Linked DNA regions of Homo sapiens: region 1 is linked to region 2. A link means that fine-mapping ties the variant in region 2 to the expression of a gene that starts in the linked region. Tissue or cell type: whole blood. Region 2 holds a variant in brackets; the other region holds the start of a gene. All regions are shown on one strand. Distances are from middle to middle.

The links. PIP is the estimated chance that this variant, and not a neighbour inherited with it, causes the effect.
Region 1: CPEB4 starts here. The variant in region 2 is fine-mapped to the expression of CPEB4 in whole blood (INTERVAL, PIP above 0.99).

Annotation. Positions count from the first base shown.
Region 1 is chr5:173,884,482-173,892,481 of GRCh38, forward strand. CPEB4 (cytoplasmic polyadenylation element binding protein 4) reads left to right here and starts at 3,868. Exons shown (of 10, transcript NM_030627.4): 1 at 3,868-6,377. The coding sequence starts at 5,253. RefSeq lists enhancers at 159-408, 3,375-3,614, 5,639-6,140, 6,141-6,640 and a silencer at 6,145-6,439.
Region 2 is chr5:173,849,312-173,857,311 of GRCh38, forward strand. No RefSeq gene overlaps it. Among named protein-coding and RNA genes, the nearest start is that of CPEB4, 35 kb to the right of the region's middle. RefSeq lists cis regulatory regions at 4,040-4,580, 6,222-6,791 and an enhancer at 6,375-6,669. The variant C/T (reference allele first, on the strand shown) is at 3,528.

The DNA of each region.
Region 1 (8,000 bases), 35 kb after region 2:
AAAAGGATCAAGTGCTTTAAATATTTCTGCAGGCAATAAGCATGGCTCATGTAATGAGCTTTTTTTGTATGTGTGTCATATTTGTATAATGTGCCCCTGTGTCTTAGAAAAAAAGAACTGAAACAGGGCTGCTGCCTTGTACAACTCCATTGGATGCATTCACATACTAGTCTGTGGTGCCTTATGAAGTTGCACAGTGCACAACCAGGGCAGCCTTGGGTAGTGGTCCTGATTTTTGGTCATTAGACAAGCCTCTGGGGAGCTCGGGTGTGGGCTATTGGGAGAAGGCTGACAATGCATGCTTCAAGGAAAGTGGTGGGAGACATTAGAGCTGGACTGGGGCAGAGTTCACCTTGTGTGATTATGGGGTGAGATTTCTACTGCTTGCCGAGCTTTAAAAGAGGCTGGTGAAGGAGATATTAATGCCCTGCTTCCTGGAAGGCTCTAGGTTCTGGGTGTGGTTGACCTCAAACCCCAGAGGGGGCTGGGCAGTAGCTACCAGGTTACAGGCATTCCCCAGCCTACAACTTCTCTGAAGGTGTGTTAGCCCTCATTGTACTAGACAGGGATAGAGCTTTTTAATTTTTTTTTTTTTTTAACTAGTAGCACCTTAATGTTTGGGCAGAACTTGCTTCCCCTGCAACCCAAAAACTTTCTGGTGAGCACACTTCATGAAAAAGGCTCTCTTCTGCCAGCAGAGTGCTCAAGCCAGCACTCACCTACATCTGTAGATCCTTTTGGAGATCCTAAATGGAGCTGCTGAATTGTTGTCATGGTTACCATGGGAAGTTTCTGAGGCCAGAATGTTTTCAAGGAGCGCAGCCCTGGGCTCTGGGTATCCTGGGTTCCTGAGTAGGCAACTGATGCCAAAAAAAAAAAAGAAAAAAGAAAAGAAAATAATAGATTTCCCCCTTCCTTCTTCCATACTTCCAGTCCCTAAGCAAGAGTCTGATGTCTTAGTGATCATCCTAGCTGCAAACCATCCCAATCTACTGCCCACACCTGACTTAGCCTTAAAAGATTAGCCCGACTTGGCAGCACCTGACTGTGGCCCTGGGCGTCTCCACCTTTTATCAACCAAGACAAGTTCCTGGATTCCCTTGTGCACACAGCTGCTTCTAGGCAAAAGACACTTGTGAAGGAATTCCCTGCATTTAATGTGTTACAAAGGAAGTGACATTTTTGATCACCTCTGATATGGTTTGGCTCTGTGTCCCCACCCAACTCTTATCTCAAATTGTAATCCTTATGTGTAGACAGAGGGAGGTGATTGGATCAAGGGGGCAGTTTCCCCATGCTGTTCTCCTGATAGTGAGTTCTCATGAGCTCTGATGGTTTTATAAGTGTTTGACAGTTCTTCTTTCACTCTGGTCTCTCCTGCCGCCTTGTGAAGAAAGTGCTTGCTTCCCCTTCGCCTTCCGGCATGATTGTAAGTTTCCTGAGGCTTCCCCAGTCACGTGGAACTGTGAGTCAATTAAACCTCTTTCCTTTATAAATTACCCAGTCTTGGGCATTTCTTTATAGCAGTGTGAAAATGGACTAATAAAACTTTTTAGGAGTCCAGCACTTCACATGTATCCCATGTAATTTACAAACTTAGCAAGAGAGGAAATATCATTCACATTTTATCTAGAAGGAACCAAGGGCTTATAGAGGTGATGCCCAGTTTTGCACAGCTAGGAAGCAGCAGAGCTGGGATTCAAATTCAGGGCTGTTTGGTTCCAAAGGTGCTCTTTTTTCCAAGTCATGGCTGCCATTTTAGCCACTGATAATTAGTAGCTCTGAGGGACCCTAAACCATCTTCTGGGCATGGAACATTCATTTGTTCATTCAATAAATGTGTTCTGAGTTTTGAGTCTGCTCTGTGCCAGACCCTCTTCTGGCCACTGGGGACATAAAGATAAATCAGACACAACCTCTGCCCTTAAGAAACTAACCCACTGACAACCAGCAGTAATTAAAAGAGAGCAATCTACAAGACATTAGAGAGAGGGCCAGTCAAGGAAACCATTCTGGCGGAAAAGACACCTGACGGAACCAGCTAAGTTTCCAGGCATGTCCAGTTGTAGGGAATAAACAGCAGGTAAGACCCAATCTCTATGCTCAAAGAATCCATAGTAGAGTTACAGAGACAAGACTCATGCTCATGGCACAATGAAAGAGAATAAAATCACCGATTGAAGGCCCTCAGGTGTTCTACACGGAAGTGATGGAGGATTGACAGACTGAGGCAGAAGTTGAGACCATTAGAGGAAGGCTATGGAAATGAAATGGAAGCCACCTTTGTTCATACTATTTTTCATTAATCTTGGTATCTTTTTTTTCCCTCTAGTTGTGCCAGTTACTTCTGGCTCTACCCTGATTTCTTTGTTCATTTTTCTTCCTGCTAAAGGAAAATACTCACTTATTTAACATATTTAAAGCTGTGCTGAGAGCAAAGCATTATCCTAAGCCCTGATGGTGGTCATAGCGTTGGGAATGTACAAAGATAAACAGGACATTAAAGCCCTTGAGTACCAAACATAATGAAAAGTCTGATATGTGAGCTCCAAACCAAATGGCAAAAGGAAGGAAATAATTAATTCAGACTTGGAAACAGGAGTGAGGGGTGGGGGGTGGGTGACGGGTGGAAGGGGTGGCAGTGGGTTGGGGGGCTGTCACTCAGGGAAGACTTCATTGTTGCTGGTTTGTTCATTCACGTTTTCAGGATTCATTCACTGATGTCTCCTATCTACAATGTCTGCTCCTGAAAGAGCCCACGGTCCAGCACAGGTCTGGAAGACATAAACCATCACAATATAGTGTGAGAAACAAGCACGAGAGGTACACAGGGCCGTGGACGCTTATAAGAGAGAATTCAGAAGATGCTGTTGGTGGCTTTTGAACTGATTCCTAGAAATAAATAGGAATTTACCAAAGGAGAAGAGTGGAAAGGACATGTAAAAAGGCATTGAGAGTGTGTTTGGAGGGGGAAGAGGCACTAAGATATACCACCCATTAGGTAGAAAGGCTTGAATACCAGACTAACAAGTTTGGCCTTTATCTTCGAAATAATGGGCAACCATAGAAGAAATCGGAGCATGTGAGGGTCAAGATAAAATTTTAGTTTTGGAATTTTCCCTCTGGTATTGCGTGTAAGGTGTACTAGATCGGGATGATACGGGGGCATAGCCACAGACGCCTCAGCTGCATCTCTGCACCTGGGAGACTGCACCAGATGCGAGCCTAGCAGAATGGGAGAGTGGGAGGTGCGGGTGAGCGAATGGAAGGTTAAGGGAGAGTCCCTCGTGAGGTCTACATTCTGGGCAAGGGCAAACGCAGTTCTAGGCACCGCACAGCTGCTGGCAAGACCCGCCTCCCCTTCCAGATCCCTCTGGGGCGGAGCTCGGGCCAGAGCACGTGATGCTTGGAGCACCACCTTTACTGTGGGCACCCTTCTCATTCATCCGCGGTTTCACGGGCCGCCACTTCGATCTCCAACACCTTGACCGTATGCCTTCGTGAGCGAGGAATCCGTTCTCCTTGACACGTCCCTATTGCTCCTCCTGCAAAGCCCAGTTAGGGAAGAGAAATATCAAAGGAGTCCCTTGCCCACACAAAAGATGGCGACCTGCTGCGCTCACTCTGGGTGGGGGAAGCGGGTTCCAGGCGCCGGGCCTCACTAGGCGAGGCGCAGACGGAAGAGGCGTCTCTGGAGGTAACTTTTCGACCTTCCTGGGAGTAGCTCTGAAGCGAGGGGGCGTGGCCTCGCCTGAGTTCTAACAGATGATTGGTCTTCCGGCAGGTAGGTGGGGAATGAGTGCTACCCCCACCCCTCCCTCTTCGAACCGGAAGTGTCTCTGGGTCTTTCCAGCTGGTTGTCATTTCACTCGGCTCGGTCCTGAGGAGAAGGACTCAGCCGCGGCTGCGGGACCCGGGCACCGGGAGGCGGTGGCGGCGGCGGCGGCGGCAGCAGCGGCGACAGCAGAGGAGGAAGAGGAGGAAGAAGGAAAGAAAAAGAAGAACCAGGAGGAGTCCTCAACAACGACAGCGGGGACTGCGGGACCAGGGTAAAGCGGCGACGGCGGCGACGGCCCAGCAACCGTGAGGAGAAACAAAAGCCTTCTAAATTATAGTTTAAAAAAAAATTCTGGGGGAAAAGAGAGAGAAAGCCGAGGGGGGAGGCCCTTCTCCTTTAAAATAACTACGGTAGTGGGTTTTTCCTTTTTTTCCTCTTTTTTCCCTCTCTGCGGAGAATCGAACTGAGGGAACTGAACAAACCGCCCCTGGGTCCCATGAGGGAAAAAAACCCCGGAGCCGCAGAGAGGGGAAGAGGCAGAAACCGCAGGACCTTCCAGGTCGCCCCCTCGGTCCCCGCACCCCCAGGCCGCCCGCTCACCCTCGTCGAGTCTCGCTAATCCCTCCTGATCGCGACCCCCGCAAGAGGGAGAAACGGGTGTTTCCAACCCCTTTCATGGGGGAGAGGAAGCCGCGGGGAGCCCAGGAACAGCGACCGCAGCAAGATCTGCACCCGGAGCCTCAGGAACAGCCCCAGAGGCCAAAACTGCACCCTGCGAAAGAGCAGAAAACAGGACCAGGAACAGCAGAAACCTCCCTGCAATCATCTTTCCATTAGTCAATGCTGATTTCCTCTCCCGAAACCAGGAATTCACTTCCCACCCCAGATAACCTAATATAATCTATATATATAAATATATAATATATAATGTTCTTAAATTATTCCTGATTTTTTTTTAACCAAGCTGCCAAGAAAAGAACGTATTCCCCTCTTAGTCCTATTCTAATTTTTATGTGAGTGAATCTAAACTGCTGAGGAAAACCATATGTGATTGTTAAATTATATATATCTATATTTTTACTCCGCGCAAGGCTTATTCTTCTACATCCATAGATGCTTGAGAAGCTCTGTTTTTGTCATTCATGTACATTTTCCTTTGGAAAAAGAAAGCGCCTATTTTACTAACCAAAGACTTGATTTTTACCCTCTTCATTTTTATTCCCTCCTAAAAATAAGCCCAATTGGATCCAAGTCAATGTTTTAAGAGATTTTTTTAAGAGTTGTTTTTTCTTTCAGAGACCAGAATTCCAAATCAGAACAATTTAAGGTGATAAGCTGCGATCTTTGAGCTAGCTATAAATAAGACATTTCAAGCAAGCAAGCAAACAACTTAAATTTGGGGTAGAGGAAAAAAAAGGCGTGAGACATCAGGTTGTCATTTTTTATTGTGAGATTCTGCTCCTAAAGATAATAAATGGGGGATTACGGGTTTGGAGTGCTAGTGCAAAGCAATACTGGGAATAAATCTGCTTTTCCAGTCAGATTCCATCCACATCTGCAGCCTCCACACCATCACCAAAATGCCACCCCCAGCCCTGCTGCTTTTATAAATAATAACACAGCTGCCAATGGCAGCAGTGCTGGGTCAGCTTGGCTTTTTCCTGCTCCAGCTACCCATAACATTCAGGATGAGATCTTGGGGTCAGAAAAAGCAAAAAGTCAGCAACAGGAACAGCAAGACCCCTTAGAAAAGCAGCAGCTTTCCCCAAGTCCAGGTCAGGAAGCTGGAATACTGCCTGAAACAGAGAAGGCAAAATCAGAAGAAAATCAAGGGGACAATTCTTCGGAAAATGGCAATGGGAAGGAGAAAATAAGGATCGAATCTCCAGTGTTGACAGGGTTTGATTATCAAGAAGCCACTGGGCTAGGTACTTCAACCCAACCCTTGACATCTAGCGCATCGTCTCTTACTGGTTTCAGTAACTGGTCAGCAGCGATAGCGCCTTCCTCCTCTACAATAATCAATGAAGATGCAAGTTTCTTTCACCAGGGAGGGGTCCCTGCTGCTTCGGCTAATAACGGTGCTCTGTTGTTTCAAAATTTCCCCCATCATGTCAGCCCTGGCTTTGGAGGCAGCTTCTCTCCTCAGATCGGGCCTCTCTCACAGCACCACCCACATCACCCTCATTTCCAGCATCATCACAGCCAGCATCAGCAGCAAAGGAGGTCTCCTGCCAGTCCCCATCCCCCACCCTTCACACATAGAAATGCTGCTTTTAACCAGCTGCCTCATTTGGCGAATAATCTTAACAAACCCCCCTCTCCGTGGAGCAGCTACCAGAGTCCGTCACCAACACCCTCCTCTTCCTGGAGCCCGGGCGGTGGTGGATATGGTGGCTGGGGAGGTTCCCAAGGCCGAGATCACCGCAGAGGGCTGAATGGTGGAATAACGCCCCTGAACTCCATCTCGCCTTTGAAGAAAAATTTTGCAAGCAATCATATTCAGCTCCAGAAGTATGCTCGCCCCAGCTCTGCCTTTGCACCTAAATCCTGGATGGAAGATAGCTTGAACAGGGCTGACAACATTTTTCCTTTTCCGGTAAGATTATGTTCCATTAATAGATTAGGATGAATAAGGAAATAGCATGGTGTAATATCTATGTAACTAGAGTTTGAAGTGCCCGTATTCACATCAGAGCTTTTCTTAGAGAGAAAATGAATCAATAACCAGACTTTATTTTAGCAGGAGTGTAATTGGAACAAAATATTCAGCTGTTTCTTTGGCAGTTTTCTAAATTGTAGCCTTAATCTTGTCATAGATAATTATGAATACCTGGTAGCTGGTGATGTAGTAATTATTAACTATAATACCTTTCTTGCCTGACATGAGAATCAGGGTCAGTTTTTTCCCTATTTAGATGAGAATAAATAATATATAGATATAAATATATTTCATTGCAGAAACTATTGAATGTTTTCTGAAGTAACTATATAACTAAACAAATTTCTTTTGACACTATAAGGTAGTGATTCACTGAAAACCAGCTATTGAATTACAGTTTTCTCACTGGTTGGTTGCATTTTAAACCTGGAAACTCTCTGAACCTTGTAGGTCTGAACAGCCTGAATTGATGGACTTGGCAATTCCTCTTAAACCTCTGCAAATTTTGGCCTACCTTTCATCAGTAAGGACTATCTAGTGAGAGAAATGATCTAAATGTTTTCTTCATCCCCATTTATTTTTGAACACTGTGAAACTGTTCATCTCAGAGTGACTCTTTATGCCTTTCACCCGTTTGTTTATTTTCCAATGTTAACATTGAAGATGTAGATAATTAAACCATTCCTAAAAATAGATCCAGGCAAAGATCATTTGTCTTTCTTGCTACCAGAATATCTTTATTCTGGCAAGAGTCATTGATGTTTTTGAATTAATGAGCAGCAAGTTAGGTTGATATGAACTAGATAAAGGGAATTTCATAGGTGGTTGAACGTCAGATGCTCCACTAAATGTATATACTTTGAGGGTATGATTATATGTGTTTAGGAAATTTATAAGGGGTAAGAATCTAGCATTGAATCTAGTTTTCCCAACAACCTCACAAGATGAGTTCTGTTATTATCCCCATTTTACAGATGCAGAAATTGAATATGAGAAATATATAATAACTTAGCCAAGGGTACACAGCTGGTCAGAGTACAAATTCTAAGTTAAAAAAAAAAACAAACCCAAGGATTGAAAATATGTATACATACATGTGTGCACGTACACATGTGCTACAGCTAGAGGGTTACTTTAGAAATATTTCTGCAAAGGCTGAAACAGATTATAGAATCATTGCACTGTTCCCAAATACGATGTTAGCCCTAGCAGAATTATCTGTTTTAATTAGTAATTGACTGAGAGGGAGGGGAAGTTTGCTAAGAGAACCCTATGTCATTCCTTTCCTAAGGATTCAGGTGCAGTGCATCTTAAAATATGTGGGTATATTTAGTTTTCGACTTCTAAAAACGATTTTTTTTTTTTTTTGCCTATCAAAAAGCTGTTGGCATTTGCTTTAAAGGGTTTCAGTTGTTAAAACCAAAGATCAATTACTGTGCTTTAGTGGTCAAGTAAAAAGGCTGTTTAAGACATTGACAATCCCATGAAGTCTATTTTTAAAAAGTTGCCTTTGATATTCCTTTGAACATAAATTTAAAGAAAATTTAATGCAAAGATAAG
Region 2 (8,000 bases):
GTTCTCCCTGTGGTCTTTCTATGTGGCATGTGCAGCTGGATTCTAAAAGGGAATATTCAAAGGGTGTGAAAATGAAAGCTGTAGATCTCCTATGGCCCAACCTTGAGAGTTACACAGAAGCACTTCTGTTGCATTCTTTTGGTCAAAGCAAAGCAAGAGGGCCAGTTCAGATTCAAAATAGACTCCTCTCCTTCGTGAAAGGAGAGGCAAAAATGTGCAGCCATCTTTATATGCACCATCCCTTACTTGTATATCCTCCTAAATCACCTAGTAGGATACATAATAGGTGCTTAATAAAAATTTGTTAGGGATCAATGTATTCAATTATTTATTTATTTATTTAGAGATGGTGGCTGGAGTGCAGTGATGCAATCTCAGCTCATTGCGACCTCCACCTCCTGGGTTCAAGCAATTTTCCTGTCTCAGCCTCCCTAGTAGCTAGAACTACAGGCACTCGCCACCATGCCCGGCTAATTTTTTTTTTGTATTTTTTTTTTGTATTTTTTTTGTAGAGACAGGGTTTTGCCATGTTGGCCAGGTTGGTCTGGAACCCTGACCTCAAGTGATCCACCCGCCTCAGCTTCCCAAAGTGCTGGGATAACAGGCATGAGCCACCACGTCCAGCCTGATTTAATCATTTATTTATTCATTTATTTGGGAATCATTGGCCATGAAATAGACCAATAGTCTTGGAAAACACTAGAAGGCGGCTCAATGCGCTGAAGAGAGTCCACCAGACCTATGGTCAGACTTTGCCTTTCTTATGACCTTAGGTAAATTGCTTAGTCTTTGGAACTCAGTTTCCTCATCAGTAAAATGGCATAACTATGCCTACAGATGAGAGTAACAACACCCACCTCACAGGGTATTTCCAGGTTTAATTGCTCATGTGTTCTAGCCCTGCTTGTTCACTTTGAGGTGATATGACCCAGTAGAGAAAAACTTACTCCCCTGAGAAACAAGTTTTATTTTGGTGGTGCAGGGGTGGCGGACCCTCTGGTGTTACTTTAGAGCACTTTCATTTGAAACAGTTACAACACTACAAACAAACAAGACATAGACTTTTTGCTTTTTGAAGATAATTAATTGAAGAAAACGAGTAATAGAGGTTGCCTCTGGGGAACCAGGAATCAGAGATGGAAGGGAAGTGTGTGCTTTACTCTGTACTTGTTGGCACTGTGTGAATATTTCTCTTACAGGTCTCTCTCTCCAAAGAGAGAGAAAGAGAATTTAAATATGAGGAATTCAGATACAGTTGAAACAATTTCTTCTGGGTCACAGTGACTTCAGTGAGCACATAGCTGTTCATTAATATAATTCACAGCCACAAAAAAAGATGTGAATCACATTTTTCCTATAACAAGAAGCCTTGAAAAGAGCACCCGGAGTGGGGCTCTGAGGCTTCTTATCTCTCCACCCCTGTGGCAGTTTCCTCTCGGATCCTTGGGGTGCTTCTGCATTTGTTCATTAAATGCCTGCTCAGACTGGAGACAGCTCAGGCAATGTCCTGTCATTGCTGGACATGACATGTTCGATATACTGTCACAGTCTCCTTCCCGCATGCCCCCTCGGTGGCCCTCACTTCTGTTTGGCTCAATCATTTAATTTGCAGACTCCAGGCAGCCTAATTCCTAATCTTTCTTTAGCAAGATCATGATATGTGATGCATTGGGAGCCAGTCAAGGAGGTGAGGGGAAGTCTGGAAGACGAATAGATGAAAGGAGGGCAGGAAGGGAGGGAGGAAAGAGGAAGGAAGAGGTGCTGATTCTTGCAATTTTCTAGAACCTCTCCAAAGTCTTTTTTCCTCCATGACCCTTTCTCCCCTTGCCCTGGGATTCTCTTGTCCTCACTACCCTTGCAGTCTCCCACTCCTGCGTATTGTACAAGCTGGTGCAGACTGAGAAATGTTGCTCTGAAAGACAGGAAAGGGAATTTTTTTAAACATCTGCTTCATTACCCAGCTCCCCACTGCCCAGCCACCAATACACACAGACACATTGAATGTCTCCACAGGTCCTCTCAGCTCTTTGAAAATGATGAACTATCCAATCATTCACTTCTCTAAGTCTCCACCACCCCATCCCTGTCACTCCAGATGAGAAATTCATATAAAGATGGCTTTGCTCAGAAAACAATGTTGCCTGTGGCCATTAAGAAAAAAAGGTCTGCCCACCCTTAAATGTTTATCATAGCTCCTGATTTTTTTCTTTTCTTAAATCTTTTTTTCTTTTTTTTGACTTGGAGCAAGGAGGGTCTGACTGTCACTTGGAGCTAAACCAGTCTCCAAGTGGCCATCAGACCCTCTTTGCCCCAAGTCAGTACCGTCCTCAGTGACAGCTCTGATATGGGTTAAATTGTGTCACCCAAAAAGACGTGTTGAAGCCCTGACCCCCATACCTTGGAGTGTGACCTTCTTTGACAGTAGGGCTGTTGAAGATGTCATTAGTTAAGATGAGGTCATACTGGAGTAGGGTGGGCCGTTAATCCAGTATGACTGGTGCCTTCCCAGAAGAGGAGAAGGGACATACATGAAGTCACATAAGGGAAGAACACCATATGACACCGGAGGAAGGGGCTGGAGTGATGCAGCTGCAGGCCGGGGAACATCAAAGATCGCCAGCCAACCACCGGAAGCAAGGAGAGGCAAGGAAGCATCTGCCCAGAGTTTCAGAGGAACAGGGCCCTGCTGACACCATGATTTTCCAACCCTGGCCTCCAGAGCTGTGGGAGAATACGTTTCCATTGTTTTCAGCCACCCAGTTTGTGGTACTTTGTTTATGGCAGCCCTAGCAGGTTGATATAACTTCCTGCTATTGCCTTTGAAGCTACCGCTGGACAATAGTCTTTCAAAAGGAACTAGGGGTTTGATTTCAATGGGATGAATTTGAATAGAGTTTTGGGAGCGAAACACATATGCTGTCACTGAATTCTCAAAAAGCCTGATTTCCTCCAAGTGTCCTATCAAAAATATAAAGACATTTGAAGATAAAACACACCTTCCTTTTCCTTATCCGAGAAAACCCCAAGTTCTCAGGATAACAGACACGGGACGGCAGAACTCAAGAGAGAGTGGACTTGTGGCAAATGTGGAATCCCAGGCCCGCTGTGTGGCTATCAGCTGCGTGGTCTTGATTGAGTGTGTCAGTCAGGGTCCTGGAGGAAACGCCACTCACTGCAGATGGGTCAGGTGAAGAGACTTTAAGGAACTGACCACATGCTGTGTGCTGTGGCTCCCACCTATCATCCCAGCTACTTGGGAGGCTGAGGTGGGAGGATCACATGAGCCCAGGAGTTCAAGGCTGTGGTGAGCTATGATCGCACCACTGTACTCCAGCCCAGGTGACAGAGCGAAACCCCATCTCTCTACTATAAAATGAAAAAAAAAGAAAAAGAAAAAGAGGGAAGGGACCACACAGGTGCTGGGAGGATGAGGAAATAAACCAGGAATGACGAAGCATGCAAAGAAGAGCAACGAGGAGGAGTTGTTACCCCTTCAGAGCAGAGGGGACAGACGGAGGAAACGGTGG[C/T]ATTGCCCTCTATCAGGCATCACACTCATGGAGGGACTCAACGACTGGCAGACAGGTGGCACCTAACTAGGTAAGGATGGGGAAGAAAGACTTCGACTTCTCTCTTCTCCTGCTAGTGCCTCAATTGGCTGAACCCAGCAGGAAGCCCAGAGGACAAGGACCCCAGCACAAAGAGATGGCAGAGAGAGCAAATGGAGAAGAACTACTACAGCAAGCCATTCTCCATTCCGAACTAAGTATTTCCCTGGCCAAATGGGAGTAAGAATACTGACTGCTAGGCTTGTGACATGCCTATCACTTGGTCATGAATTATAAGGGACATAGCACAATGCTGGGCAAAGAGGATTGTCCTCGAGAAACACCCAGTGAATAAACAATTAATGGGCTGAGTGGATTTTCTTACGAGGCACACACATCATTCTTTTTTTCTAAAAAAAAAAAAAAAATCTCCAATGATAGACTTGGATAAATTATGCCTCAACTCCATGTCATAAAAGGTACAGAGGGAATTGTACAGCATATTAGAGATAATTAACTCCAAGTAGAATCAGGGCTGCCAGAATTCAGGAAGGACTCTGTGAGTCAATCTCACCCTAAAAAGGCACTGAGGCGCATGTACAGAAAGGAAAATAGAAGCCAATTAATTCAAAACATTTGGTACCTTGTAGCCTCAAGAGGTTTAGATGGAAGCACTTAGCGAGTGTGACTGAAATGGCAAGTACGTCCGGCTGCATGTGATAGATTGGTGGGAGCTGATTCAGCCACCATGCAGAGTACTGAGAAGTTGTGTCCATTTCTAGGAACTGTTGACTCAAAGGCAAAATGCAAGATGGAGCTTCATTAGGGCAGGTGGGTTTTGAAGGAGAGTTGAGACAAAGGTTATTTTTATCTCGGGGCTGTTTTCCAATCTCTCCTCACTTTCAAGGAAGGGAACGGATAGAGCACCTACTGTGTGTTGAGTAGGAGCTAAAAGGCCCCTGCACACCACTTCAGCGAATCCTCACAGCAACCAGGAGAGCGAGAAGAGGAAAGAGGCTCAGGGAAGGCTTAGGGACTTTGAGCCTTGCCCAAAGTCCCATCAAAGCTGGGGGGCCCAAGAGGAATTCAAACTTATGTTGTTTTCACGCTATACCACGTGACCTTTTTTTCCTTTTCTTTTTCTTTTCCTTTTCTTTTTTTTTTTTTAGAAAGGATTTCACTCCGTCACCCAGACTAGAGGGTAGTGCATAATCATAGCTCACTGCAGCCTTGACCTCCTGGGCTCAAACAATCCTCCTGCCTCAGCCTCATTAGTAGGTGGGACTATAGGCACATGCCACCAAGCCAGGGTGACTTTTAATTGTTTTTGTACAGAGCAGGTCTCCTTATTTTGCCCAGGCTGATCTCAAACTCCTGGGCACAAGTGATCCTCCCACCTCTGTCTCCCAAAGTGCTGAGATCACCGGTGTGAGCCACCGCACCCGGCCCAAGTGACTTTTTCCATCCCATCATGTGAGTCAAACCTCTTGGCTCCACTCTCAAGATATGGTCCTAAGAAACTACAGAAACAATTTCACCATACTGGAAGAAACACAAATATCAAACAACAAAGGAAGAACAGAAAGAGGGATCCTGCAGGGAAATCCCAGTTCTGCCTCTGCCTCATAGGTTGCTACCACCAGATTTCGATGGTTCTACCACACACACTTTTTGTTTTCTTTTTCACATTTTAACATCTCAAAAATCAGAGTATATTTTACAATTGATGGCATGTCAGAGTTTAATTGACAGTTGTTATTCTTTCTTGATGGCACATTACACAATGGTGAGCCTTATCATGTACTGTTGGCACATTTATGAAATATATTATTATCAGCTTCATTTTTCACAGATGAGTAATGCAGCCTGTTCACAAGCAAATCAGTGGTCCCCTGCCCACTTCCCTGACCTCACCTCCGCCTAGGATGCCTGATTCTTTCTTTCTTTCTTTCTTTCTTTCTTTCTTTCTTTCTTTCTTTCTTTCTTTCTTTCCTTCCTTCCTTCCTTCCTTCCTTCCTTCCTTCCTTCCTTCCTTCCTTCCTTCCTTCTTTCTTTCTTTCTTTCTTTCTTTCTTTCTTTCTTTCTTTCTTTCTTTCTTTCTTTCTTTCTTTCTTTCTTCTTTCTTCCTCTCCTTTTTCTTTTTTTTTTTAGTCTCGCTGTTGTCCAGGCTCTGGGCTCACTGCAGCCTCCATCTCCTGGGTTCAAGAGATTCTCCCGCCTCAGCCTCCTGAGTAGCTGGGATTACACTCACCCGCCATCATGCCCAGCTATTTTTTGTATTTTTGTAGAGACGGGGTTTCGCCATGTTGGCCAGGCTGGTCCTGAACTCCTGACCTCAGGTGATCTGCCTGCCTAGGCCTCCCAAAGTGCTGGGATTACAGGTGTGAGCTACTGCGACTGGCCGACACCTGATTCTTTCTACATTTGCCCTCTCTTCCTCCCTCTAACCACCATTTTGTTCCTATTTGTACTGGGCCCTGTGGGCTGCCTTGTAAACACTCTTTCCTTTTTCCCTCCTGGCCAACAGGACTCTGATTTGATAGAAGCGTCCATTGATCCAGATAGGTTATCTTACCCCATATCAATTAGATACCCAATGTAATCATGGAAAATACCATTTCTCTCACTTGTGTAGTTCGGGCTGGGCTTGTGAGTCACTTGTGGTCTAAGGAAAAGTGTACTGGGGACTCCTGGGGAAAGCTTCTTCTCTTTTAGAAGATACAGAAGTTTTCTTTGTTTCGCTAGACAGTTGTGTCTGGATGTGCCTGGCACTACAGGCACCATGAAGGGACCCAGCCTTGGGATGGGCAGAGACACAGAAGGAAACCAGGCCCTGATGATGTGGTGCAGCAGTGCTGTGTTCCCCATTTTCCACCTTTTACTTGAGAACTCCCAGCTCAGTGAGATAAAAATGTGCTTATCGTAGAAGCCACCTTGAGTCGGGGTTTTCTGTGACTTGCAGCTGAAGGCCTCCTCATTTACGGGCAGCCTCAGGGCTTTCCTCTCACTGTTTTTCTGCTTGACCCTCTCCCCCTGGCTGGCTCCGCCTCATTCTTCAGGCCCAACTCAGAGGTCACTCCTGTCACCTCCCTGTTGGATGTGCTCCCGCCAGTCACTCCATCTCGTTCTGTTCTGTTTCCCGCAGAGCCCTTGGGATTCATTAAACTCGTCTGGTTTAAGGACAGCACTTGATTCCCCCACACCAGAACATAAGCCCCAAGACAGCAGGGACATGCCTGTCTTATTCACTCCAGGACTCCAGGACTTAGCTCAGTGCCTGCCATATAGTAGACACTCAATAAATCATCTCTGAGTGATCAAGATGTAGAGAGCTGGCATTTTAAACCCAAGCATTTTACATCTTGCTAGATGCCACCTTTCAGAACTCTTTACCTCCCTGTTTTAGGATTCAGGCTCCTTGTTTCCCTAGCTAGGCCCTGCTCCTTAGCTCACAGATGCCATTTCCCCCTAAGCATCAGCATTCTCTCTTTGCAGGTGAACTCTTAAAAAGGAGACAATCCTCCTGCCTCAGCCTCATGAGTAGCTGGGACTACAGGCACATACCACCAAACCAGGGTGACTTTTAATTGTTTTTGTACAGAGCAGGTCTCCTTATTTTGCCCAGGCTGATCTCAAACTCCTGGGCACAAGTGATCCTCCCACCTCTGTCTCCCAAAGTGGGAGCTGCCTGCCCTGCATTCCATTGCTCAGCTCAGGATTGAATTGATGGCTGTGTTCTCCAGGCCAAAATCCTGGGCACAGAATTGGGATGGCCTTATCATCCCTCTGCTCCACCTTCTTGCTTTCTCTGCCAGTAGCCCCTACCTAATCTGCTGCGGGATTGGGGGTGGGGGGCAGTAGTTATGATGGTGATGGCACCATGGATCCCAAGAATTCCTCAGAAATTAGAAATTTAGGCTCAGACAGGGAAAGTGATCTGGTCATAGGCAGTAGTTGGAAGACACGGGAAGAGAACCCAGCTTTCCTCTCTCTCCCGGTTCCAGGATCTTTCCAGTAACCTGTTACTTCTTTTTAGATAGAGACATAGTAAACTGAAAGTTGTCGTTACTTCCAAGGTGAACTAGAGCATCTCCCTATGTTGCCCAGGCTCATCTCGAACTCCTGGGCTCAGTCCATCCTCCCGCCTCTGCTTCCCAAAGTGTTGGGATTACAGGCATGAGCCACCACGTCCAGCCCGTATGATTTCTCCAATCCCTTCATGTGAGTCAAACCTGTCAGCTGTTTCAATTCTGTGAGCCTCAATTTACCAATCTGCAGATTGAGGCACTCAGCCATTTTCCTCAGAGGGTGTGTGTGTGTGTGTGTGTTTCTTAGAAGATCATGCAAGGGCTGATATAAAGGCCATAAAAACACTAAAGCAGCCTTTCCTCTAAGTCCAGGTTCAAGGGCCCATCTAAGTCCAGCATTTTAAAATTTGACCCCTTACAAACACAC